Linked DNA regions of Homo sapiens. The protein of the gene in region 1 purifies or fractionates together with the protein of each later gene. This does not show direct contact. Each region holds a gene or a part of one and is shown on either strand. Other genes may lie near its edges. The genes, in order: CDV3, QKI, RRBP1, TSFM, UBAP2L, SUGP1 and COBL.

Region 1 (3,500 bases):
ATCTTCAGGGTTATTTTGATCTTGATCTATTTTGGTTACTTTTGAGATAGTGAAAAGTGTCTTAAATAACTTACATACTTCACCCTTGCCAGGGATATAAGTAAGTATCAGCTAGTACAAGCATTTAAGTTCTGTTCAACCTGAAGGTAGACTAGCTTTTTTTTTTTTTTTTTTTTTTTGAGACGAAGTTTCCCTCTTGTTGCCCAGGCTGGAGTGCAGTGGCAAAATCTCGGCTCACTGCAACCTCCGCCTTCTGGTTTCAAGCGATTCTTCTGCCTCAGCCTCCCGAGTAGCTGGGATTACAGGCGCCCGCCACCACACCTGGCTAATTCTTGTATTTTTAGTAGAGACGGAGTTTCATCATGTTGGTCAGGCTGGTTTTGAACTCCTGACCTCGTGATCCGCCCGCCTCAGCCTCCCAAAGTGCTGGGATTACAGGTGTGAGCCACAGCACCCGGCCTAGACTAGCTTTTATATTGTTTTTTTTGTTTTCTTAGCATCTAGTCATTGGCCCTAAGTGGCCATCCTAGTAGAGGTATTCCACTAACCTGCAACACTGAGAAACACTCCTTCCCATATGTTCTTCACTCAGATCCACCAGTCTCTGCTACATGTGCTTTATCTTTTTCTATTTCTCGGTATACTGAGAGCTGCAGATGTCACATTCAGTCTTTTTTTCTTTTTTTTTTTTTGAGACAGAGTTTCGCTCTTGTTGCACAGGCTGGAGTGCAATGGTGCGATCTCAGCTCACCGCAACCTCAGCCTCCCGGGTTCAAGCGATTCTCCTGCCTCAGCCTTCCGAGTAGCTGGGATTACAGGCATGTGTCACCACGCCTGGCTAATTTTGTGTTTTTAGTAGAGACGGGGTTTCTCCATGTTGTTCAGGCTGGTCTCAAACTCCCGACCTCGGGTGATCCACCCACCTCGGCCTTCCAAAGTGCTGGGATCACAGGCATGAGCCTCTGAGCCCAGCCAGATGTCACATACAATCTTAAAGTTCTTGACCCTGGTCCTTATAGTAGTTAGCATATTAGTTCTTTACCTGTACATTTGAAAGGGGAAATTTTTCATTAGCAGCAAACGTATTATATATTAAGATCCTATTTCACATTTACCAACCAGCTCAAGATTTAAGTACCAAGGTACTTAATGTGCCCAGTTTTGTGTCTGAATTAACAGATCTTATTCAAGGTCATGCTGTTATAGACAGATTCTTGAGAGGGAAGCCATTGAGGTGGTTATAAAGGAGGCTGTCATTTGAGTTAGATCCTTGGTTGTTTGTAGGCCCTGTAGGCCTCTTTCATCTCTATTTTTTCATTTTTTTGAGACAGTCTCACTTTGTCACCCAGGTTGGAATGCAGTGGCATGATCATAGCTCATTGTAGTCTTGAACTCCTGGGCTCAAGTGATCCTCCCACCTCAGCCTCCCGAGTAGCTGGGACTACAGGTGTGAGTTGCCACCCCTGACTAATCTTACTTTTTTTTTCTGTAGATGAGGTCTATTTTACCTAGGCTGGTCTCAAAACTCCTGGCCGCAAGTGATCTCAAAGCAAAGGAATCACACGCATGAGCTGCTAGGCCCAGCCACTTCCATCTTTAAAGTGGATTTTTGGGAGAATGTTAGAAAGATTTAATTCTTGAAGGTATACACTGTTGAGCATTTGTCACGTTTCAGTAAATAATTGAGTTCTTGGAGCCCAGTGGTTTTCTAGAAACTTTGGTGAGAAATCTAGACTTAAACCTTTTAGGTAGAGCTGGTTACATTATCCAAGGTGGATTTATTCTAGCAAATACTTATGTGACTACTCTGCTAGACACTGAGGTTCTCTGGTTGTAGAAATAAGTCATGCTGTAATAGACAACAGTAGATAATTTCAAAGAGATGTGCATGGTGCTCTGGGGCAGAGGAGAGACATTTCATCATCCATGAAGGGGTCAGGAAAGATTCTTTGGATGAGGTGCAGTGCCATTTTAAGCCTCCAGGCCAGGCATAGCTGATCAGGCCATGTGTATCTCCCCATTTTACTGTTGCAGCAATGCTAGGTATAATAGGGACAAACCTGTGGAGATGCCCGGTATTCCAGCAGCTCAATCCAGTCTGATTTTTGTTTTAGCTGCTTCCCCCTAGTGTTGGGGAAGGGGAGTTAGGATGTATAAATTCTCATGTCTCTTGAGGTAAAGAGATAAGGCTGTTCTATTCTTTATAAATATACTGCTGCAGGATGTGTGATCCTATCAGCCTTACTAAAGAAAATGCATTTCTCAAATCTTAGAGAATATTTTTGCATCATACCTTAGAGCTATAAAGGGGATAAAATGAATTAAAAGGTAATGTGAAATAATAGAGCCTCTAGAATCCCACACTATTTTGGCTCTGCTACTTTGTAGCCCTGGGGAAGGTACTTATGTTTCCTCATACATACATACAGTGGGTCTCTTGGCTGCCTTAGTGTTACTGTGAGGTTTAACTTTGTACAGTGGGGTGGAATGCTGCCTGCTGTAGTAGATATTCAGTAAGTCTCCCTTTTGTAGCATCATTATTCTCCTCACCTTACCAGTAGTGCCTTACAGACTTACACATATTTAAGACCGTATATGTGGAATTGTGATGAATTTACAGCAGTATTGTAGTGTTTGTTTATAAAATTTAGCTGATGGGAAGCTATATATTATATTTGGGTCAAACACTGAATTTCAGCCTGTCTCCCATGGAAATAACCGTTTGGAACGTGTTTCTTGTTCTGCTATGACATTTGGAGAGTTGATACTTTCTGAAATATGTAAAGATGAAAAAGTAATAAAATATGTAAATCATTTCTACCCTGCTAACTGGCATTTAGGCAAGCCTCTAAGCATCTCTGGGCTTCAATTCCTTCAATTGTTGGATGAAGAGTGTTTTTGGTTTGTTCGTTCTTTTTTTTTTTTGATAGAGTTTTTGCTTTTGTTACCCAGGCTGGGGTGCAATGGCGCAATCTCCGCTCACTGCAACCTCCACCTCCCAAGTTCAAGCGATTCTCCTGCCTCAGCCTCCCAAGTAGCTGGGATTAGAGGCATGTGCCACCACGCCTAGCTAATTTTTGTATTTTTAGTAGAGACAGTGTTTGACCATGTTGGTCAGGGTGGTCTCGAACTCCTGACCTCCAGTGATCTGCCCGCCTCTGCCTCCCAAGATGCTGGGATTACAGGCATGAGCCACTGCGCCCGGCTGATAAAGAGTCTTGACTAGACAATTTCCACATGTTTAGTTTAGCTAGTATTTCAGAATCTTAACCCAAAATACTTATTTATTTTTATTATTATTATACTTTAAGTTCTAGGGTACATGTACACAACGTGCAGGTTTGTTACATAGGTATATATGTGCCATGGTGGTTTGCTGCACCCATCAACTTGTCATTTACATTAGGTATTTCTCCTAACGCTATCCCTCCCCCAGTCCCCCACCCCCCAACAGGCCCTGGTGTGTGATGTTCCCCTCCCTGTGTCCATTTGTTCTCATT
Region 2 (3,500 bases), on another chromosome or scaffold:
AGAGGTTGCAGTGAGCCAAGATCCAGTGCTTTGGCAACAGAGAAAGACTCACACAAAATTAAAAAAAAAAAAAAAATTAAAAACCAAGCAGTGATGCTGCTACTTTATAGTATGAGAGGCTCTTCTGAATACCCATCAACTTCAGAGTATTTGGATTTGAGGTTGGCAGGGCAGTTGATAATTTCATTCACAGATGAAGAAGCTTGAGGTTCAGAGACATTAGTTATCTCACCCAAGATCACCAAACCAGTTAATTGCGGAGTCATGATTAGATCCCAGGTCTATAGTACAAGAATGCTTACCACTTCATCACAGGGTCTCATTAGCATATGCACAAAAACATAAATTCATTTCATCTTTATGCTGGCTCACGCATGTGCAGGCACACACATACAGAGTTAAAACTTGAATACTCTCATGATAATGGCATCACTGCAACCACGGTGGAATCAGCGACAATAGACAATTAGATGCGGTTTCAGGGTAATTTTTTTGATCCCAGTTTGAAATTTTTTTTTCTTAAAAAAATGTATTCACCTGCCATGTAACAACTGTATCAAAGGGATATAATTGCTGTAACATAGCAAAGAACTGTGGCTTACATTTAATTTGTTTGAATTATTTGAAATGAGCAATCATCCCCCAGATGCTGGCATCAGGAATACGATATAGTAGCTACCTGGTGGCTATCTGGTGCAGCACCGTTTCCATTCAATTCATAACCATCCACCTCCTGGGTGTCACTCTTCAGTTATCTACCTGATATATCATTGGGCTGTTTACCCCAGGCTGATCTAAAACTGATACAAGTATACATTCCTAACTTGAATCACTTAGCAATAGCATACTTCTCTATTAAATCACCCAGCCAAAAATGTTTCCTCTTGAGTAGTAAAAATAATAGCAGCAACAATTTTTACATTATTCAAAAAACTGAGGCTCTAGCCTTTGCTTACAAAGAAGTGAATGAGCTGAAATCCTCTAAAAATGGCTTTCTCACTTTTAGCCTCTTAATTAGAAAGTTATCGTTAAAAATAAATTCTAGTTCTAAGAATCTGACCATCATTTGTTCAAAACCAGCATATCACAGAATTAGCAAAAAATCATTTGGTTTGTCTTCTTTACCTTCACAACTTGAGGCAACAGCAGCAGATTTTTAGCATATGGAAATATTCCAGGTTTTTCCCTCCAGTTCCCCTTGTGGAGAGGCACGCCACAAAATGGAACAGAGGGCAGAAGTGAGTGTCTTGCTCTAGCTCTGCTGCCCACTTGTCTTTGCACCTATGAAATGAACATATACTCCCAACTCTCAGGTCCCCTGCAGCTCTAAAACACAATTCTCTGATATAATCTGCAAAGTAAGTTTGAGACCCTGTAAAACTATGACATTGAAGAGTTTACAAAAAAGGTTCCAAATTTTATTTGTTTTTGAGATGGAATCTCGCTCTGTCACCCAGGCTGGAGTGCAGTGGCGCAATCTCCTCTCCCTGCAACCGCCGCCTACCAGGTTCAAGCGATTCTTCTGCTTCAGCCTCCCAAGTAGCTGGCACTGTAGGCACACTCTACCATGCCCGGCTAATTTTTAGCAGAGACAGGGTTTCACCATATTGGCCAGGCTAGTCTCGAAATCTTGACCTCGTGATCCACCTGCCTCGGCCTCCCAAAGTGCTGGGATTACAGGCATGAGCCACCTCACCAGGCTCGGTTTCAAATTTTAAAATTGCATGTTTGTTTTCTTACTATGCATTTCCCTAATTCTACTCTTAAAATGTATTATTTTTTGTTTGTTTTTTCCTATATATTTCAAACTATAAAATCAGCTTAAAAACCAAGGGCTCCCCAATGATTTGCTACTGACCAGGAGATCAGGCCCAGTCTCTACAATGACCTCTCCTGCACTAAAGCAAAAGCGAGGTGCTTACTTAAGGCCAGCTACTTATTCAATCCCGGGGCCAACCTTTCTCAGCTGGAACTTAACCAGCCCCAGTACTCACAAAGCCCAGCTCACATTCACTGCATGTCTTCACTTACAGATATAAATGCCTGCACACACATGCCCTTTACTTACATTGTGACCATTATGTGGAGCCACTTTATGGATGTAACTGCATTTTGATGTTTTATTTTTTAAGACAGGGTCTCACTGTTGCCCAAGGTGGAGCGCAGTAGCATGATCATAACACTGCAGCCTTGACCTCCTGGGCTCAAGCAATCCTCGCTCCTTAGCGTCCCAAGTAGCTGGGACTACAGGCACACACCACCACATCCGACTAATTATGTTCTTTCCGATACTTCAATATCTGCTTATCTGCTAAGCAGAATATGACACATTCTGCTTATAATAAATAATGTGATATAAATCTTACAATCGATTCATTTCCCCAGCCTCAAAATTTAGTTCTACAAAAATATTAGACTAATACATGAAGCAACTTTATGAACATAATTTATTTTGTTAGACTTGATAGGATTGCCGGATTTTCAAACTAGAGTTTCCGCATCAAGAAACTGAAGACGAAAACATTAAGTGCAGTCCTTTTCTTGCTAATTGTAAGAATTCTAGATAAATCACTTCTGCAATATATTTTTTAAAAATTCATCACAGATTTTCAAACACTGTTACTGCTAAAGCACAGTAATAAACAGTTTAGAGCTTGGTGGCTCACGCCTGTAATCCCAGCACTTTGGGAGGCCGAGGCGGTCAGATCATGGGGTCAAGAGCCGAGGCGGTCAGATCATGGGGTCAAGAGTTCAAGATCAGCCTGGCCAACATGGTGAAACCCCGTCTCTACTAAAAATACAAAAATTAGCCGGGCGTGGTGGCGGGCGCCTGTAATCCCAGCTACTCGGGAGGCTGAGGGAGGAGAACTGTTTGAACCCAGGAGGCAGAGGTTGCAGTGAGCCGAGAGCACGCCACTGCATTCCAGCCTGGGTGACAGAGCGAGACTCCAACTGAAAAAAAAAAAAGAAAAAAGAAATAAAAGAGCTTAGTTTCAGCTAAGTGAAAACTTCAATTTATCAGTTTTCTAAGTAATGGCACTGTTTAAAATTAAAAGACACACCTGTGTTTAAAAACATAGCTATTTGTGTTAAATGACAATCAGCCACATATGATTATACTCAGCTTTCTTTTAAACTAAAATCACTCAATCAAATACAGTCGTTATCCTGAACACACCAAAGCAGCACTTAGGGACAAGAAATCATTCCTATCTATTGTGCCCTGCATGGAGTACAAGAACTATATATGTGGGGACTTTTAAAAGGGTAACTAACGGGGTGGGGAGTTTACCTATATAATTCCATAAATGCCAAAATTTTCCAAGAGCTGAGATGAGCACTGGTAGTTTTTCTCTGCTTATGAATTGATACCCTTTGGTATAAGGACTGACAAGAAACTATACTATTTAAGTAAAGCAATTTTATCTTCCTAAATCTCCTTCCCAACAATGACAGTAAAGTAAAATTAAGCACCTTGGCAGCAAGTACTACAAATAACA
Region 3 (4,119 bases), on another chromosome or scaffold:
AGGAACCGCCAAGATTAAAAATAGGAATGAACAGTTTAATTTCAACCCAATCGCTCTTTATTCCCCATGAAGGCTTGTATTTTTCACATCTTTCTAACAACAGCTAGTACAGTACTAGTGACAAATGGGGACAGGGAAGATTGAAAATTGTCCAAGAAATAGATGTTAGGCACGGGATTCTGCAGCAACAGGAGCTAGGGAAGTGATGGGGGGCAGTCTAGGCAGCCTTTGGTCGCTCAGAATCCAAAATTCCAAAGAAGCTGGCTTTGGCTCAAGTTCAAAGGGTTGGCTTTAAGAGACGCTGACATAATGGTTAAAAATCAAGCCTAAAATTATTTTAATTTAAAGACTTGACTAATTATGAAGACTGAGTGTTGGCTGATATTGGGGAGAAAGTCAGGGAATGAGGAAGTACCAGTTGCTCCGTTTTGTGGGACACGGATGAGTTTTCTTAGGTTAGAACCTCTCACCTTCCCCAACGCATGGAATAAAACGCCACAGAGTGGATTGTAATTATTGCTCTGCCGGCTGTGATTTGGTTGAGTATCTTAAATAGACCGTGCCTCAGTTGTACCCTCCCTAACAACGAGGGCGATGACATCCGCTTCAATTCCTCGTGCACCTTCTGGCTCTTCCACCCCAATTCCTCCATTTACTGAAGGAAATTCCTTCTGGTGCTGATTGCAATCTCTTTGATGATAAGAACTTGCTCTCCCTGGGCTGACCCCCAGCAGAGCTTGTCCTCATACCCGGCGGCCCGAGGGGGCGCTGCTTCGGGGGAAGTTAGTTGGGTTTAAATAAAGCAGCTTCCTTGGCTGTTCGCGGTTGCGCAACCCTGTTCAGCCACCGCCATGTCAGCCCAGCGGTATCCAGAGGCGCAGGCCCGGGGTCGCCGGGACCCGAACCTTCTGCTTCCCGCCTAGGCAGAGCCGGATCCTAGTCAGAGACTGCTGGGAGCGCCGCGGGCCCAGAGTGGGCGGAGCTGGCCGGAGACCCCCCCCTCGGTGGGCGGGGCGTTCCTGCTCCGCCCCGCCCCGCGCACGGCCGAGCGCCGCGCCGCTCGGCCCCGCCTCTCCCCAGCCCTGCCCCCTTCACCTCCCCGCAGCTCCTCCCCTCTCCCATTGGCCGAGGTGGAGACCCTCCTCTCTGCCCAATGGCCGCCGCCGCGGCTCGGCCACCCGCGTCCTGACTGGCCAGCGACCGGCAGAGTGGCGGGGTGCGGACCAATGGGAAGAGGCGGCTCGATGAATGGCTGGCCCGGGTGGGGAAGGCAGGAGGCGGCGATCCCGGCGGAGGGGGCCGTTCGCCAGCTCTGAGGCAGAAAGTGCCACGACTCCACACGCGCGCACGCAGCCAGCGAGCGGCCGGAGCGGACGGCAGACGGGGCGGGCGGCGTCAGGGTCGCAGCGTCTACAGCTGCTCGGGGGCGGTTTCTTGGCGGAGGCTTGGCCGGCTCCTCTCTCCCGGCTCCGCGGCGGCTGCGAAGGCGGCGGCTCCTGCCCTCTCGCTTTCCCTCTCGCGTCTCTGGCTGCAGGTAAGAAACTTGGCCGGGCCCTGCAGCGGCCGCGCGCGGGCCGGGCCGTCGGGGGGCCGGGGCCGGCCGCGCTGCGCCGCGAGTGACACGTCTCCTCGGCGGCCCCTCCCCCGGCCCGCCCGCCGCCCGCCGCCTGCCGCCGCGGCCGTGCACCATCGGGGTCGGGGTCGGACTCGGGGCGGGGGTGCCGGGCAAGCGCCGTACCGGGGCGTAGGCAGGGCGCGCCCCGTGGTGTGGACCCCGCGGCCCTCGCCGTCCGGGGAGCTGCGGCGGCAGACGGGCGCGACGTGGCGACCGCTCCCTGCCTCCCTCCCTCCCGGCAGGGCCGTCGGGCCGGCCAGCGCGCTCCGAAGTTGGGCGAAGAAAGTTGGCGGCGGGGCGGGGCGGGGCGGCGCACAGCTGGCGGAGGAAGGGGTTAAGTTTCGGGAAGCCGCCGGATGACGTTGCCGGGCTGGAGTCCGGGCCGGAGGGGTGGGGTGCGGGCGGAAGGCGGCGGAGGCCGGCCGAGGGGAGGAGGGCGGGATTGAATGGGGGCCCACGGGCCGAGCGCGCCGGTCCCGGGCCGCGGCCCGCTGGCGCTTCGCGGGGCTGGGACGGCCCCCGACGGGGCGGGCCGGGGCCGCAGGGCTCGCGGCGCAGGGACCGGGTCTGTCCATGGCACGGACGCCGGGCGGCCGCGGTGGCAACTTCCCGGAGTGCGGGAGGCGGCTCCCTGCTCCCCCTGGCGGCGGGGCCGGGGCCACCGTTTCCCCGGCTGGGCTGCGCGGAGCCTGGCTCGAGGGCTCCCGGCGGGGGGACGAGGGCGCCCGGGGCCCGGCCCGCCCCGCCCGCGGCCACGATGAATGGGCCGGCGGTGCCAGCCCCGGGCGGAAGCGGACACCTCCGGGCCGGCCAAGCGCGCTGGCACCCGGCCTGGTGCCCGCCCCGGCCCGGCCGGCTCTCCCGCTGCGCCCTGATTAGGGGAGGCAGGCCGGGGTCTGCGCTTCCAGTGGGGCGCCCGCAGTGCTTCAGGGACCCCTCTCCGAATGATAAGTCGCGAGTTTTAGCTCTAGAGTGCCCCGGCTGGCGAGGGTGACCCCGACCAAGTTGTTTCGTTCGGGGTCTCCATTTCCTGGTCTGCAAATCGGGGCTCCTGTTAGCTTCGATTTGCGAGGAAAGCTGTGGAGACCCAGCACTTGTAGGAAGGAGCCACAAGTGTTGGCTGTTCAGTTGGGATGCTTTTGTTGGGGGGTGCTGGACACGGGAGGAAGGTGGGGCCTGGCTCCGGCACTGCGGCGGGCGCGGGGCTGCAGAAGTTGCACAGCCGGGGTTCTACACCCCGGACCACGTACTGGCCGCCTACTCGCAGGTCCCATAGCCCCTCTGAATCCTAGTTTCTTATCTGTGGCCTGAAGACAGCACCACCCACTCACAGGGTCGGGAACCACGCCGGGAAGTGCTGGGACCTTGTACAAACAGAAGGCAATTTGGCAATTACTCTGAGAGGTCAGAGGTTAGGAGAGACTGGGAAGCACCAAGGAAATGAAACTCTGAGGGACCTGAGGAGCCTCCCACGTCACTGCTCAGCTATTCACTCTGCGTGCTGGAACCTTCAGGGTAGGGGCCATCTGGATGGCATTTTCAGGAATTTGGAGAAATGGGCCTGGTAGGGCCTCATATCTCACATTAGATACCTCTTCAGAACTGGGTGTCCCCAGAGACCCAGGACGTCTGTCTGGCACTCCCAGGAAGAACAACTGCGAATGTTACCCCGCCCTGTGCAGCTGGGGGGCATTCTCCCACTGCCCCGCCTCCCTCCTCACACTCCTTGTTTGATTTAACTTCCTGTTAATCCGACACCTAGAGAAATCTGTGACCCTGCAGCATGTCACTTACTGTGTGATGTCTTGACTCGTTTACGAACTTGCCAAAGGTCACTCCCACTATCATATGCCAACCTCTTTCCCTTCCAGAAAGAAGCTTCCGGTTCTGAGGTCCTGGAGGTGCCATTTCCCTCTCTGTTGAAGCAAAGGCCGGGGCAGACCTCCTAGTAGGTGAAGTTTTCCTTTTACATGGAGCACCGCAAAGCCGGCTTGCAGGGATCTTGGGCCAGTGGAGGCCTGGAGGAGGCTAAGGTTGGGGGAGGGGAAACCAGAAAGGGATCTTGGGGTTTAGGAGAGGGTTTAGAGCTCTAGGCACTATAACAACTCTCACCTTTCATACTTAGGAATCTGCCTCTGAACATTTACAGAGAGATTAAGAAGTTACAGTGGTTCATGGTATATGAGTATTTTTTGGTGATGGAAGAGTTTTAAATAAATCTTAAATCAAGTCACATTTGAGCAATTATGCTCTTTAATGAAATGAGCCCTAACTCAACAGGCTGCAATAATTACATAGCAGCAAACTCAGTTTAAATGGTTGAATGCCAGTGATTGAATTGGAGTATTGATTTATTATGTAGCAGGGACACCTTTTAAAAGTGTCGGGACCCCAGACTCTTCTTGTCTTTTTAGCCCTGGGAATTTTAACTAATAGATGAATGACACATAGAGGATCAACAGTTCTGTTGAGACAGCAAGTTTTTCTTTGCTAAAATCTTGTTT
Region 4 (3,500 bases), on another chromosome or scaffold:
TTTTTGTAAGTATGTTGCAGACATCAGGATCCTTTATTCCTTCAGCATGTATCTCGTAAAAACAAGGACATTGTTATATAACCACAGGACAGTGATCACATTTAGGATTTTTTTTTCTTTGAGACGGAGTGCAGTGTTGTGATCTCAGCTCACTGCAACCTTCACCTCCTGGGTTCGAGCAATTCTTATGCTTCAGCCTCCTGAGTAGCTAGGATTATAGGCATGCATTACTACTTCCAGCTAATTTTTTTGTGTTTTTAGTAGAAATGGGGTTTTGCCATGTTGGTCAGGCTGGTCTCGCACTCCTGACCTCAGGTGATCTGCCCGCCTTGGCCTCCCAGAGTGCTGGGATTACAGGCGTGAGCCACCGCACCCAGCCAAAATGTGTTAGTTTTAGTAGTTGTCATTCTACTGTTAGAAATAAATTTCCCTTCTCATTTTTATTTAGTGATTTATTCAGCACTAACATTGACTCGTGGGTTCTTATTTTATACAATAAGTTATAACTCATTATTCGTTTTGATGCTCAAATTATCTGCGGATTTGATCAATGCAAGCTGACTGTAATGTCCTTTGATATGCCCTTATTATTTTCTGAGTATTTTCTTACTTTTTGGCTTTTTTGTTTATTCTTATCTTTTGGGTTTATGTCATACTTTCCTTTCCCCAACTGTGGAATGGGCCACTTCTTCAAGGAGTCCTGGTCCTTTTTAGTTGGGGAATGGTTTTTAGAAATCAAGATTTGAATGTTAGGTGTGCTGATTTCTTTCTTTCTTTTTTTTTTTTTTTTTTTTTGAGACAGAGTGTTGCTGTGTAGCCCAGGCTGGAGTGCAGTGGCGCGATCTTGGCTCGCTGCTACCTCTGCCTCCTGGGTCCCGGTTCAAGCAGTTCTCCTGCCTCAGCCTCCCGAGTAGCTGGGATTACAGGCACGTGCCACCATACCCAGCTAATTTTTGTATTTTCAGTAGAGACAGGGTTTCACCATGTTGGGCAGGCTGGTCTTGAACTCCTGACCTCGTGATCCACCCATCTTGGCCTCCCAAAGTGCTGGGATTACAGGCGTGAACCACTGCGCCTGGCCAGGTGTGCTGATTTCTACTGAGATGTCATTTGTTCTTCGAGCAGACAGTGCAGGTGTATGTGCTGTGTGCGTGTGGTTCAATCCTTCCTTTTTCATAGCAACTTCAATATGTTTACTGTTTTTAGTTATGTACTCATATGTACTAAGTGTTACAATATATATACAAAATTGTTTCAGAATTGCTACCCCTGACCACTGCAAATAACAAAACTACTAAGGAGTTCAAGATTTATTTGTAGTTCTTTTTGTCTTTACATTGAAGTTAGGTGGTCAAATGACTCCGTTTAGTTATTTGGATTTTTTTTTTCCTTCTGTGAGCTTATGTTACTCATTTGAAATATAGTTTTATATTTCTTTGTAGTCAGTATTTATTTTCACCCCAAGTATGTGTTGATTTAATTTTATTTTAATTTTATTTTTTAAATGTGTGTTTTTTTTTTTGGCTGGGCACAGTGGCTCATGCCTGTAATTCCAGCACTTCGGGGTTTTTTGTTTGTTTTTTAAATCTTTTTTATATTAATAGAGATGAGGTTTCACCATATTGGCCAGGCTGGTCTCAAACTCCTGGCTTCAAGTGATCTGCCTGACTTGGCCTCCTCAAAGTGCTGGATTATGGGCATGAGCCACGGCACTGGGCCAGATTTTTTTTTTTTTTTTTTAAGATGGAGTTTCACTCTCATTAGCCAGGCTGGAGTGCAATGGCATGATCTCAGCTCACTACAGCCACCGCCTCCTGGGTTCAAGTGATTCTCCTGCCTCAGCCTCCTGAGTAGCTGAGATTATAGGTGCCCGCCACCACACCTGGCTAATTTTTGTATTTTTAGTAGAAATGGGGTTTCACCATGTTGGCCAGGCTGGTCTCGAACTCCTGACCTTAGGTGATCCACCCGCCTCAGCCTCCCAAAGTGCTGAGATTACAGGCGTGGGCCACCGCGCCCGGCCGGCCAGGTTCAATTTTATTTTTGAATACATAAGATACATTAAGAAAGTCCTCAAAGTTAAAACTGTCAAAAAAAAAGTATGCTCAGAGGAGTCTTACTGCTTCTCTCCCTTCTACCCCGTTCCTATCCATCCCTTTATTTAGATAACCAGTGTCATTGGATTGTGGTTATCCTTTCAGTATTTCTTTTTGCAAAAATAAGCATATTTATACAAATAGTTCTTTGTTGCACAGATAGTAGTATAATATGCATATACACTTATAATCTGCTTTTTTCACTTAATAATATGTCCTGGAAATACTCCATAGCAATTCATGAAGGTCATCCTTTTTATTTTTTCCAACTACATAGTATTCTGTTGTGTGGATGTGCTATAGTTTAATCTCCTGCTATGTTTGGGCATTTAGGCTGTTTTTAAAATTTTCTGATTAGAAATAATTGTTCAATGAATAATCTTGTGCAGTATTATTGGAAGTATATCATCAAGGTGAATTCATAGAAATAGGATTTCAGGGTCAAAGGATAAATGCATATGTAGTTTTATTAGATACTACAACTTCACACCATTGGATTTGTACCATTTTGCATTCCCATCAAAAATGTGCAAATCTAGCTCTAACATTTTATGATTTTATGAAAATATTGTTCTTGGCCAGGTGCAGTGGCTCACGCCTGTAAACCTAGCACTTTGGGAGGCTGAAGCAGGTGGATCACTTGAGGTCAGGAGTTCAAGACCAGCGTGGCCAACATGGTGAAACCCTGTCTCCACTAAAAAAGATATAAAAATTTGCCAGGCATGGTGGCGCATGCCTGTAGTCCCATCTACTCGGGAGGCTGAGGCAGGAGGATCGCTTGAACCCGGGAGGTGGAGGTTGCAGTAAGCTGAAATCATGCCACCGCACTCCAGCCTGGGCGGCAGAGCGAGACTCCATCTCAAAAAAAAGAAAAAACTGTTCTTGGCCAGGTGCAGTGGCTTACGCCTGTAATCCCAACACTTTGGGAGACTGAAGCAGGAGGATCTCTTAAGCTAAGAGTTCAAGACCAGCCTGAGCAACATAGGGAAACCCCATCTCTATATTTAAAAGAAAAAGAAAATAATTGTTCTTGATTTCTAGGAAATTACATTCTAGGAAGTTAGGCTGGAGGATGAGAGTGGAATGTAATTGGGGGTGGTGCAGTGATAGAATAAAATGTTTATAAAGATGGAACTGTTACCAATTTTTAACATTCTTGCCTTTATGAAAATATTGTCTACACTTAGTTGTCTTAAAGAATGTTTTCTTTCTTTCTTTTTTTTTTTTGAGATGGAGTCTCAATTCTGTTTCCCCGGCTGGAGTGCATTGGCATAATCTGAGCTCAGTGCAACCTCCGCCTCCCAGGTTTAAGCGATTCTCACGTCTCAGGCTCCCCAGTAGCTGGGATTACAGGCGTGTGCCACCATGCCCAACTAATTTTTGTATTTCGTTGGAGACGGGGTT
Region 5 (3,500 bases), on another chromosome or scaffold:
TATAGGTATTGAAAGAATTTTGACCTGAAATATAATAGGTCAGGCCAATAAATAAGTGCTTTCATTCTCTAATTTTTTGTAGCCCTTTGTTTTGTTTTTTGTTTTTTTTTCAGATGAAGTCTCACTCTGTCACCCAGGCTGGAGTGCAGTGGCATGATCTTGGCTCATTGCAGCTTCTGCCTCCCGAGTTCAAGCGATTCTCGTGCTTCAGCCTCCCGAGTAGTTGGGATTACAGGCGCTCACCACCATGCCTGGCTAATTTTTTGTATTTTTAGTAAAGATGGGGTTTCACCATGTTGGCCAGGCTGGTCTCGAACTCCTGACCTCAAGTGATCTGCCTGCCTCAGCCTCCCAAAGTGCTGGGATTACAGGTGTGAGCCACTGCACCCAGCCTATTGTAGCCCTTTGGATAGATACTTTGTTTGGAAATTTTATCTTAATTTTAACCTCTTGCCTGTTGCTGATGCCATTTTGTAGAAACTGAGCAGTTGTGGGTATAGGAAATGTGGAAATTCATGCTGAAGCCTGTGTGTTTCAGAGTTTGATTCTGTATTTGATGCTTAATTGCTTTGTAAATACTTTTGACCTCATCCCTGAACCACAGATGTTAATATTTGGCTTTTGGAAATAGAATACCAAAATTCTACATGTTTTCCTTTTTGGCGGGGGTTGGGGGGGTGGTTCTGGAAAACCTGCTAGGCAAATTCTACATCATTTTTCTTTCTTTCTTTTTTGTTTTTTTTTTTATTTTGAGACGGAGTCTTGCTCTGTGGTCCAGGCTAGAGTGCAGTGGCGCAATCTCAGCTCACTGCAACCTCCGCCTCCTGGGTTCAAGCAATTCTTCTGCCCCAGCCTCCCAAGTAGCTAGGATTACAGGCGCCCGCCACCACACCCAGCTAATTTTTGTATTTTTAGTAGAGACAGGTTTAATCATTTTGGTCAGGTTGGTCTCAAACTCCTGACCTCAGGTGATCCGCCCACCTCAGCCTTGCAAAGTGCTGGGATTATAGGCGTGAGCCACTGTGCCCAGCCCTCATCTTTTGCTTTTTAAACTTGTTTTTTTCAAACTCAACTGATAGCGTTTCCCTTCACCTAGTTTCCTTTCATTGGGAGTGTGAGCATAAGCCTGTTCATGATGGTTGCTGTTTTTTCTCTTTCAGTTGATTGATATTACAGGCAAGAACCAGGATGAATGTGTGATTGCTTTGCATGACTGCAATGGAGATGTCAACAGAGCTATCAATGTTCTTCTGGAAGGAAACCCAGACACGGTAGAGTGCTTATAGAGTGTTCTAGGACATGGGTCCTCAATTGGGAGGCTAGTAATGTTCTAAAAGTAGCAAATGGCAACATACCTTAAAGCAGAGCACCTTTTTCTTGAAGTAAAGTTGGGAACTTTCTTGGAGATTGTTCACCACAGGTTATAAATACTTAAAATTTATGTGTACTACATCCTTTTTATGAGGATAATGCTCATAGGAGAAAACAGTGAAATCAGTCTCTGCTAATTGGCCTGGAATAAATTATTTATTCCAGGCTAGTGACTGTTTTCAGGCTGTGGGGTTAGGCTGAATTAGAGGTGCGATTTGATAGCCTTGGATATTGCTGTTGAACAAAGTCACACACTATACTTGATTCTGTTTTTTTTTCTTTTTATTTTATTTTATTTTATTTATTTTACATATTTGATTCTGAATTCAGGACATTCCCCTCAATATCAGCTTCGCATTGCACACTACTGTTTCATTGCCTGAACTTCCTTCTGTTGAGGTAGCAGAGAAACAAGCTTTGTAGCCTGCTGACCATCCCTGGAGATGATAGGGGATATCTTGGAGGATCTCTTGCCCTGGAATTTAGACAAGTCGCTTTCACTTCTCCTTCCCACTTCATGAGAATTCTGTTTTTATGCTTGTCTTATGTTTGTACCAAATTGTAATCCTCTGACTGCCTTATTGATCTTCAGAATGTTCCTGCAGTGCTTACTAGAGAAATTTTGTTTTTTTAATGAGCAGTGTATTATTATTATTATTATTATTTTGAGCCAGGGTCTTACTCTGTGGCCCTGGCTGGAGTACACTGACATGCTGCAACCTCCTCGTCCTGGGCTTAGGTGATCCTCCTACTTCAGCCTCCTGAGTAGCTGGGACCACAGGCATGGGCCACCATGTCCAGCTGATTTTCCCATTTTTAGTAGAGCCAGGGTTTCTCCATGTTGCTCAGGCTGATTTCAAACTCCTGGACTCAAGCTAGCTGCCCGCCTCGTCCTCCCAAAGTGCTGGGATTATGGGCATGAGCCACCGCACCTGGCCCAGTGTATTATTTTGAAATCATTTTCATTTATTGGGTCTTATACTGGGGCTCTTTGGTTGGAATAGATATCAAAATTCATCCTTACAGATAACAACTTGTTTTTTTTCTTGAGTCAGAGTCTTGCTCTTGTTGCCCAGGCTGGAGTGCAGTGGCGTGAACCTGCTCTCTGCAGCCTCCACCTCCCAGGTTCAAGTGATCCTGTGCCTCAGCCTCCAGAGTAGCTGGGATTACAGGCATTCACCACCATACCCAGCTAATTTTTTTTTTTTGAGACGGTGTCTCTCTCTGTCTCCCAGGCCGGAGTACATCTCGGCTCACTGCAAACTCTGCCTCCTGGGTTCAAGCAATTCTCATGCCTCAGCTTCCCGAGTAGCTGGGACTACAGGCATGCACCACCATGCCTGGCTAATTTTTTGTATTTTAGTGGAGACAGTGTTTCACTATGTTGCCCAGGGTGGTCTTGAACTCCTGAGCTCAGGCAATCCTCCTGCCTCGGCCTTCCAAAATGTTAGGATTACAGGCGTGAGCCATGAAACCTGGCCTCAGATACAACAGCTTTCTGATACTACAGAGTCACTCCAGCTAAATGCAGGAGGTTTGTCAATTTCTTTGAGACAATGGGAAATAATAATGGAAAACTTTTAAAAACAATTGAATTTAAATTGGTGGGTTTTTTCTTCAAAAGTGTTATCCTGGATTAAATTTTACACTGTTGACCTTATTTGAATATTTACTATCTGGCCAATCAAGATATGCTTTTGATTTGTTTTGGGTTTACTCTAGAATAATTGTCTCCAGATTTTATGGGGGGAATCAGGTGGGGCTATTTATGTTTTTTTAAAAGTCTGAATGTTTTTTCGCAAATCACATTTTATCTTACCTTCCAGCATCTTCTGTCTAGTGCTATAAGGCTGATGTTATACAGTATCAAAAAGGAAAATAAGCTGGAGAATATAGGTTTATGTTACGAATAAACTAGCTACTAGTGAAACCAATGGGAAGCAAAGTCAGCTCCCAGGGATATTGGATGTATTTGGGTGGGTGAGATCATTTCAGAAAACTGAAGTCGCCTTTGGGAAGATAATAGTAATTCTTTCTCCTGACCCATCTTGTGCCAGCAACAGATGTGCATACAGAGGAGGGAGAAAGGTTACAGTTTCCTGAAACTTGCCAGGTTTTGAGATAGCAGC
Region 6 (3,500 bases), on another chromosome or scaffold:
CCCACCATCGTGCCCGGCTAATTTTTGTATTTTAGTAGAGATGGGGTTTCATCATGTTGGCCAGGCTGGTCTTTAACTCCTGGCCTCAGGTTGTTCCTCCCACCTCGGCCTCCCTAAGTGCTAGGATTACAGGCATAAGTCTCTGAGCCCGGCCATTTTTTTGTATTTTAGTTGAGACAGGGTTTCACTATGTTGACCAGGCTAGTCTTGAACTCCTGGCCACAGGTGACCTACCCGCCTCTGCCTCCCAAAGTGCTGGGATTACAGCCTTGAGCCACCGTGCCGGGCCTGTTTTATTTCAGAGGCAGGATCTCACTCTGTCACCCAGGCTGCAGTACAGTGGCACTATCATAGCTCACTGCAGTCTGGAATTCCTGGACTCAAGCTATCTTCCCACCTCAGCCTCTTGAGTAGCTGGGACTACAGATGTCCACTGCCATGCCTAGCTAATTTTTAAATTTTGTGTAGATGGGGTCTCACTATGTTGCCCAGGTTGGTTTTGAACTTCTGGGTTCAAGTGATCCTCCTACCTTGGCCTCCCAAAGCATTAGGTTTACAGGTGTGAGCCACTGCTCCTGGCCCGATGTGTTTGTCTAACAATTTTTTTTTATATTTGAGATGAAGTCTAACTCTGTTGTCCAGGCTGGAGTGCAATGGCGCGATCTTGGCCCACTGCAACATTCGCTTCCTGGGTTCAAGTGATTCTTCTGTCTCAGCCTCCCCAGTGACTGGGATTACAGGTGCCCGCTACCACGCCCGGCTAATTTTTTGTATTTTTAGTAGAGACGGGGTTTCATCATGTTGGCCAGGCTGGTCTTGAACTCCTGACCTCAGGTGATCCGCCTGCTTTGGCCTACCGAAGTGCTGGGATTACAGGTGTGAGGTCCCGCACCCGGCCTTTGTAACAATTTTTAATTCAAATGTATTTTGATGTAAGTAGAACCACACTGTAGATACTGTTTTATAGCCTGTCCTTTTGTTTTTTTTTATTTATTTATTTTATTTATTTATTTTTTTTTTGAGATGGAGTCTTGCGCTGTTGCCCAGGCTGGAGTGCAGTGGCACGATCTCGGCTCACTGCAGGCTCTGCCTCCTGGGTTCACACCATTCTCCTGCCTCAGCCTCCTGAGTAGCTGGGACTGCAGGTGCCCCCCACCATGCCCGGCTAATTTTTTTTTTAATTTTTAGTAGAGACGGGGTTTCACTGTTTTAGCCAGGATGGTCTCGATCTCCTGACCACGTGATCCACCCGCCTTGGCCTCCCAAAGTGCTGGGATTACAGGCGTGAGCCACCGCGCCTGGCCTTGTTTTTCCTTTAACATTGTATTTGATTGCTTGTCTAAAATTTCAACTTTTCAGGGCTGCCCCATCTTCCCTGTGGATGGCCCGTAATTTATTTAACCAGTGCCCCTTGTTGATGTATTTAGGTTATTTTAGTTCTGATGAACTAAAAATTATTCCTTTCTCCTATTTAAAGGAAAAAGGCTAGCCCTGTGGACTCCATGAGCTTTTTGCACCATTGGGTACATCCATATGGTGGAACGTCATGCGGGTTTAAAAAGCAGCGTATGTGAGGAATTTGAGATTGGAGCAGGATGGTGTGCTACAGTAGGAAATGGAAGAAGTAGAGTGTGTGCTGTGATCACAGCCTTATTTCCTCTGACTTCTAATTTAGAGAGCAAAATAAAGATATATACCAGTGTTAATAGTGGCTGTTGCAAAGTAGGGAGACATTGTTGGGTTTTTCCATTCCTTTCTGTTTCAGTTTTTCTTTTTATTTTTTTTTAAATGATCTTACTCTGTCACCCAGGCTAGAGTGCAGTGGCATGATTGCGGCCCACTTCCGCCTTGACCTCCTGGGCTCCGGTGATCCTCTGGAATGCTGGAATTATAGGCACACGCCACCACACCCAGCTAATTTTTTGTTTTGTTCGTAGAGATGGGGTTTTCTCCATATTGCCTAGGCTTATTTCAGTTTTTCTACATTTCCATTTGTTCCATAATGAGCCTCTGTTACTTTTTTTTGTTTTAAGAAACATGATCTCACTCTGTTGCCCAGGCAGACGTGCAGTGGCATGATCATATGTCACTGCAGCCTCAAACTCCTGGGCTCAAGTGATTCTCCTACCTCAGTCTCCCAAGTAGCTGGGATTACAGGGATGAGCCACCATGCTTAGCCAAAGCCTGTGTTTCTTTACCCATGTGGGCCTGCAGCTCAGAGCTGGGATCTGCAAGCATTTCTTTGGGCATCATACATTTCTTTTTTTTTTTTTTTTTTTTTTTGAGACAGAGTCTCGCTCTGTCGCCCAGGCTGGAGTGCAGTGGCGCAATCTTGGCTCACTGCAAGCTCTGCCTCCTTGGTTCACGCCATTCTTCTGCCTCAGCCTCCCGGGTAGCTGGGACTACAGGCGCCTGCTACCACATCTGGCTAATTCTTTGTATTTTTAGTAGAGATGGGGTTTCACTGTGTTAGCCAGGATGGTCTCTATCTCCTGACCTCGTGATCCGCCCACCTCGGCCTCCCAAAGTGCTGGGATTACAGGCGTGAGCCACCGCGCCCAGCCTGGGCATCAAACATTTCTAAGAAAACAGCCAAAGCAATCTTGCTGGAAGAATCACAGGGCATTTTATATTTTATCTTCACTCTCTCCCTCTTTTTTTTTTTTGCAAAGTATATGTTTTACTTTTTAAAAAATATGTTTTTAACAAGTTAGCACAAAGGCAAACCCAGGGGCCTAAATATATTTAAATCAAAGTTGAGCACAGCTGATATACTGTTGTCAGAGCTGCCCTTCATGCCTGTCAAAAAAATGGCATTGGCCAGGAACAGTGTCACATGCCTTTAGTCCTAGTGACTTGGGAGGCTGAGGTGGGACCATTGCTTGAGGCCAGGAGTTCAAGACCAGCCTAGGCAACATAGTGAGATGTTACCTCTACCAAAAAAAAAAAAAAAAATTAAAAAATTAGCCAGGCAGAGTGGCACATGCCTGCAGTCCCTGTTATCGCACCATTGCACTCTGCACTTTAGCCAGGGCAGCAGAGCAAGACCCTGTCTCTTAAATAAATAGGTCAGGTGTGGTGGCTCACACCTGTAATCCCAACACCTTGGGAGGATGAGGTGGGAGGATGGCTTGAGGTTAGAAGTTCGAGAACAGCCCAGCCAACATAGCGAAACCCCATCTCTACAAAAATACAAAAATTAGCCAGGTGTGGTGGCACATGCTTGTAATCCCAGCTGCTCAGGAGGCTGAGACATGACAATCTCTTGAGCCTGGGTGGAGGAGGTTGCAGTGAGCCAAGATTGCCCCACTGCACTCCAGCCTGGGCGACAGAGTAAAACTCTGTTTCGGATAGATAGATAGAGAGGGAGAGAGACAGAGAGAGAGAGACATGTAGGCCCTGCCTTGGAAAACTCTAAGGTCTAGCAGGAGGACAGACATGAGTCAGTAACAACCCAGATAATCAACTAGCAAGGGAGGACAGGTGCTGTGCAGAGAGAG
Region 7 (3,500 bases), on another chromosome or scaffold:
AAAGTGCTTACTGTGTGCAGTGTAAGAAGAATGCAGACTCCTTTGCAGGAAAGAATTCTTGTTCACTAAAGGACAAAATTATCCTTTTAAATTTTGCTGGCTAAAAATTTGCTCTGTCACTCAAGCTGCTTTGAACTCAACCAAGCACAGTTCTAAAGAAAAAGGGTAAAATATTCATCCTAATTCATCCTTTTCCTTAAGTCATGCTGGTTGGTTTCTTGTTAGATTTCTGTCTCCGCCTTGTCCAAAGGTATTTGCTATTTTTAAATCATCACAGTGTTTCTATATATGTGTGTGCTGATTTCTTCACATAACATGCTAACATAAGCATGGATGTGTGTTTCTACATAGACTTAATGATCATCATATTTACTGATTTTAATGCCCTTTGAAATATATATGTAATAATTTAGGTAACTGCCTAGTGCTGGACATTTCTAGAATTCTTACATGAACTTTGTTGTATTTATATTTTTCCTTCTATAGGGTTTCCTTAAAGCAGATTATTAAAAAAGAGATTAATGGGCCAAAGTTCTTACAAAGATAACGTGATTTTTGTTTGTGTGTTTTTTGATATGTATTTCCACATTGCTTTCCAATTAAAACCTGTAGCAACAAGTGTGGGTCTGTCAGATTCATCACATCTTCATCAGCTTGGGGTGGGTTTTTGTTTTGTTTTGTTTTGTTTTGCTATTTTGCAAAATGGTAGAATCAGTGGAGTTTTTATCTTATTATTTTTTTTAATTCTTATTGATATCATTATGTTCCATGTCTCATAGTGACGTGATCAAGCATACTTTAAAATAAAGGCAAATACTTTGAAGTAAAAGTATGTCTGTAATTTTGTTTGGCTGGGCTTTAAGCATCCTAAACTAAGAGCAAGCATTTAAAAAGTTTTCCATCTTTCCAAGTATTTAAATCTCTTTTCCATTTCAGATTGCTCTTTTATATGGCAATTTCCATTTTTCTCTGCCATATATTTTATTAAAAATTTAAATGTATTTAAACCATCTCATTCCATGAAAGAGAAAAGCAGAACTTTAGTAAAGTGCATTCAAATAATTAAAGTCCATGGCAAAAGCAATAGGGAAGACAGTCATGCACCTCTTGTGGTCCTTATTAATGGGTCCACATGCACACACATCTCCAACCAGCCCCCTTTGTGTAGCTTGTCAGAGGACATTAGCTGAGACTAATCTGGAAGCCACTTCCTGGCTCCCAAATGGACATAGTCACCAAATCAGAAAGACTCATTTATCAGAATAAAAACTTTGCTACGTGAGGATTGTGCAAAGCTTATTTCATGCATCATTATCTGGGCCTGATTAGCAGTGATGGAAATTGGTCCTCAATTTTTAACAATCAGCGGAAAACAAACCTTCAGCTTTCACTGAAGATAGACAATTGCCATAGACATGTCTCTGTGTTTTCTGCACAATAGGAAAATAGAGGCAAGAGCCCTTGCAAAGACAGTTTTTAAATTGTTTTGGCAGCAGTTGTCTCACAGATGCCATTGTCCCTGTGACGCAAATGAAGCCAGATCCCGCTCTCTGAGCAGACGGGTTGACATCTTCCTGGATGCCCCGTGCCACAGGGGCCACATTATTATGTGTTGTGGCCCCAGATGCAGCTGGTCCTTCTTGGGCTTTGGGGGCAGGCAGGCCTGGTTCCAGATGCCAGTGTGACCTGGGCAGCTCTGTAGTCTCTCCGTACATAGTTTCATCACTGTACAACAGTGACAACAACACTACCTGCCTGAAAAACTGTGAGGGTTATAATAAGATAATTTATGCAAAAGAGCTCTGTGCGGGGGCTGGCACAAAGGCATGCAGACAGGCCTCACACTGCTAGGAGCTTCCTCCTGTTAAGTCTGAGAGGAGGCCCTTGGGAAGGGTCTTGCGGAGTCAAGGGTGGAGCAGTTACTCCTGCTACTGTTGCTGTGAGGTTTTTTGGCCATCCTTATTGTCCTTATGTCCCAGTTCAAGATTCTAGGGAGTACAGCTCTTCAAGTGGCATTATCAGGCCCCCAAGCCCTGCCCCTGCAAGTGGCATTATCAGGCTCCCTGTCACCCACCAAGGGTAGGAATTAAGCCAAAGTAAACATAGAGTCTGTAAAAGTCATTTATAGTAGAGGAGTGAAATTTCTCGTTTTCTGAGTCTGGCAGGGTGGGCTACTGCTAGGGTGGACACAGATGGAGGCTGAGCTTATGAAGTTGGTGGGACTTCTGGGAACACTCCCCCATGCAGCCCTGCACAACCCTCCCCACGGACCTCCTAACAGCAGGCAGATCCTGCACCAGAGGTATGTAGCCTTTATCACTGGGACCTTGAACGACGCTGCACTCAAATCCGCAAGTGCCAAGGAACAGCCGGGCTGTGCAGTGTTGAGGTGAGGTGGACCAGCCTCCAGCCACGTGCACATGCTTGGCCTCCAGATGGCTTCACTCCTTCTTGCCAGGTGCCAGGTGCAGGGGACTGCTGTAGCGCAAGGCACAGATGCAAGCAAATCCTGGATCACGTGAACCGTCTTTTGTGCGGTGGAATTAAAACTTTGACTTCAGTCTGCAGAGTGAATGAAAGCTGTGTGTGGTTTGGTTACTGTAACACTTTGGGGCCCCACACACACACCATATATCACATGTCCACCACATACAAGACATATACTCCACACATGCACACACGCTACACGCATCCCACACATACCTGTGCACACACATGGGGGACACACACACCCATGAACAATCTGCGTCTCCGTAGTTCTGAGGACAACAGCAGTACAGTGAGTATGTGACTGCTTGAATTTGAGTATGAGCTGTTCTATCCTCAGATATTCCTGGAAAGGAGTACATTAAATCAATAGTAAGAGAAATGAGTGCTCCTTTCTCTTTGGTCTTCCCTAGAACTGAAAAAGCTGTCACAGCCTCAAATGATGAAGAAGACCTATTAATTGCTGGAGAGTTCCGTAAAACCCTTGCAGAACTTGATGAAGACCTGGAAGGTAAGAACCACCTGATCCGCTACTCTGATATTATGCTGCATGAAAGTAGGTGCCAACAGTAACTTCCTCTGAGCATACTTTGATGTATCTATGTGAGGAAACAGCCTTCAGAAGGAATTCCAGGTCAGTTTGGTGAAAGTCTGGATGTGAGGCGCACACAGGTTTCCGGTAGACTGCTTTTTATCTGGGCTGCCAAGCAGTACCTGGAAACATCCAGACAACTGCTTACAGTGTGCTCTGAATAATACTAATTCAGTGCATTAAAAAAGTATGCCACACATGTTAAAGAATAAAAAGGGTGGCGCAAAAAATAAACAGATTTCCTCATTAAGACTTCTCTTAATTTGTTGATATATGGCATATCTGTCAATGAGAAATACTCAGCCTTTTGACCACAATGAAGCCATTTATAATGGAGCATCTCATGGCACTGCTATTATATTGATATATTTTGGGGAAATAATACTGGAAGGCCAAAGCAGATGGCAAATAGTTGCAGTAA

The links.
Region 2: the proteins of CDV3 (region 1) and QKI fractionate together in Homo sapiens (co-fractionation; one large-scale study listed by BioGRID). This does not show direct contact.
Region 3: the proteins of CDV3 (region 1) and RRBP1 fractionate together in Homo sapiens (co-fractionation; one large-scale study listed by BioGRID). This does not show direct contact.
Region 4: the proteins of CDV3 (region 1) and TSFM fractionate together in Homo sapiens (co-fractionation; one large-scale study listed by BioGRID). This does not show direct contact.
Region 5: the proteins of CDV3 (region 1) and UBAP2L fractionate together in Homo sapiens (co-fractionation; one large-scale study listed by BioGRID). This does not show direct contact.
Region 6: the proteins of CDV3 (region 1) and SUGP1 fractionate together in Homo sapiens (co-fractionation; one large-scale study listed by BioGRID). This does not show direct contact.
Region 7: the proteins of CDV3 (region 1) and COBL fractionate together in Homo sapiens (co-fractionation; one large-scale study listed by BioGRID). This does not show direct contact.

What each region holds. Positions count from the first base shown.
Region 1 is NC_000003.12:133,576,686-133,580,185, forward strand, and holds part of CDV3 (protein CDV3 homolog), read left to right. Parts: intron 1-3,500.
Region 2 is NC_000006.12:163,421,218-163,424,717, reverse strand, and holds part of QKI (KH domain-containing RNA-binding protein QKI), read right to left. Parts: intron 1-3,500. UniProt on the Homo sapiens protein: RNA reader protein, which recognizes and binds specific RNAs, thereby regulating RNA metabolic processes, such as pre-mRNA splicing, circular RNA (circRNA) formation, mRNA export, mRNA stability and/or translation.
Region 3 is NC_000020.11:17,679,443-17,683,561, reverse strand, and holds the start of RRBP1 (ribosome-binding protein 1), read left to right. Parts: upstream 1-1,319; 5' UTR 1,320-1,534; intron 1,535-3,486; 5' UTR 3,487-3,563; intron 3,564-4,119. UniProt on the Homo sapiens protein: Acts as a ribosome receptor and mediates interaction between the ribosome and the endoplasmic reticulum membrane.
Region 4 is NC_000012.12:57,789,287-57,792,786, forward strand, and holds part of TSFM (elongation factor Ts, mitochondrial isoform 2 precursor), read left to right. Parts: intron 1-2,678; coding exon of another isoform or gene 2,679-2,741; intron 2,742-3,500. UniProt on the Homo sapiens protein: Associates with the EF-Tu.GDP complex and induces the exchange of GDP to GTP. It remains bound to the aminoacyl-tRNA.EF-Tu.GTP complex up to the GTP hydrolysis stage on the ribosome.
Region 5 is NC_000001.11:154,227,455-154,230,954, forward strand, and holds part of UBAP2L (ubiquitin-associated protein 2-like), read left to right. Parts: intron 1-1,160; coding exon 1,161-1,271; intron 1,272-3,500. UniProt on the Homo sapiens protein: Recruits the ubiquitination machinery to RNA polymerase II for polyubiquitination, removal and degradation, when the transcription-coupled nucleotide excision repair (TC-NER) machinery fails to resolve DNA damage.
Region 6 is NC_000019.10:19,310,510-19,314,009, reverse strand, and holds part of SUGP1 (SURP and G-patch domain-containing protein 1), read left to right. Parts: intron 1-3,500.
Region 7 is NC_000007.14:51,030,310-51,033,809, reverse strand, and holds part of COBL (protein cordon-bleu), read left to right. Parts: intron 1-2,900; coding exon 2,901-2,998; intron 2,999-3,500.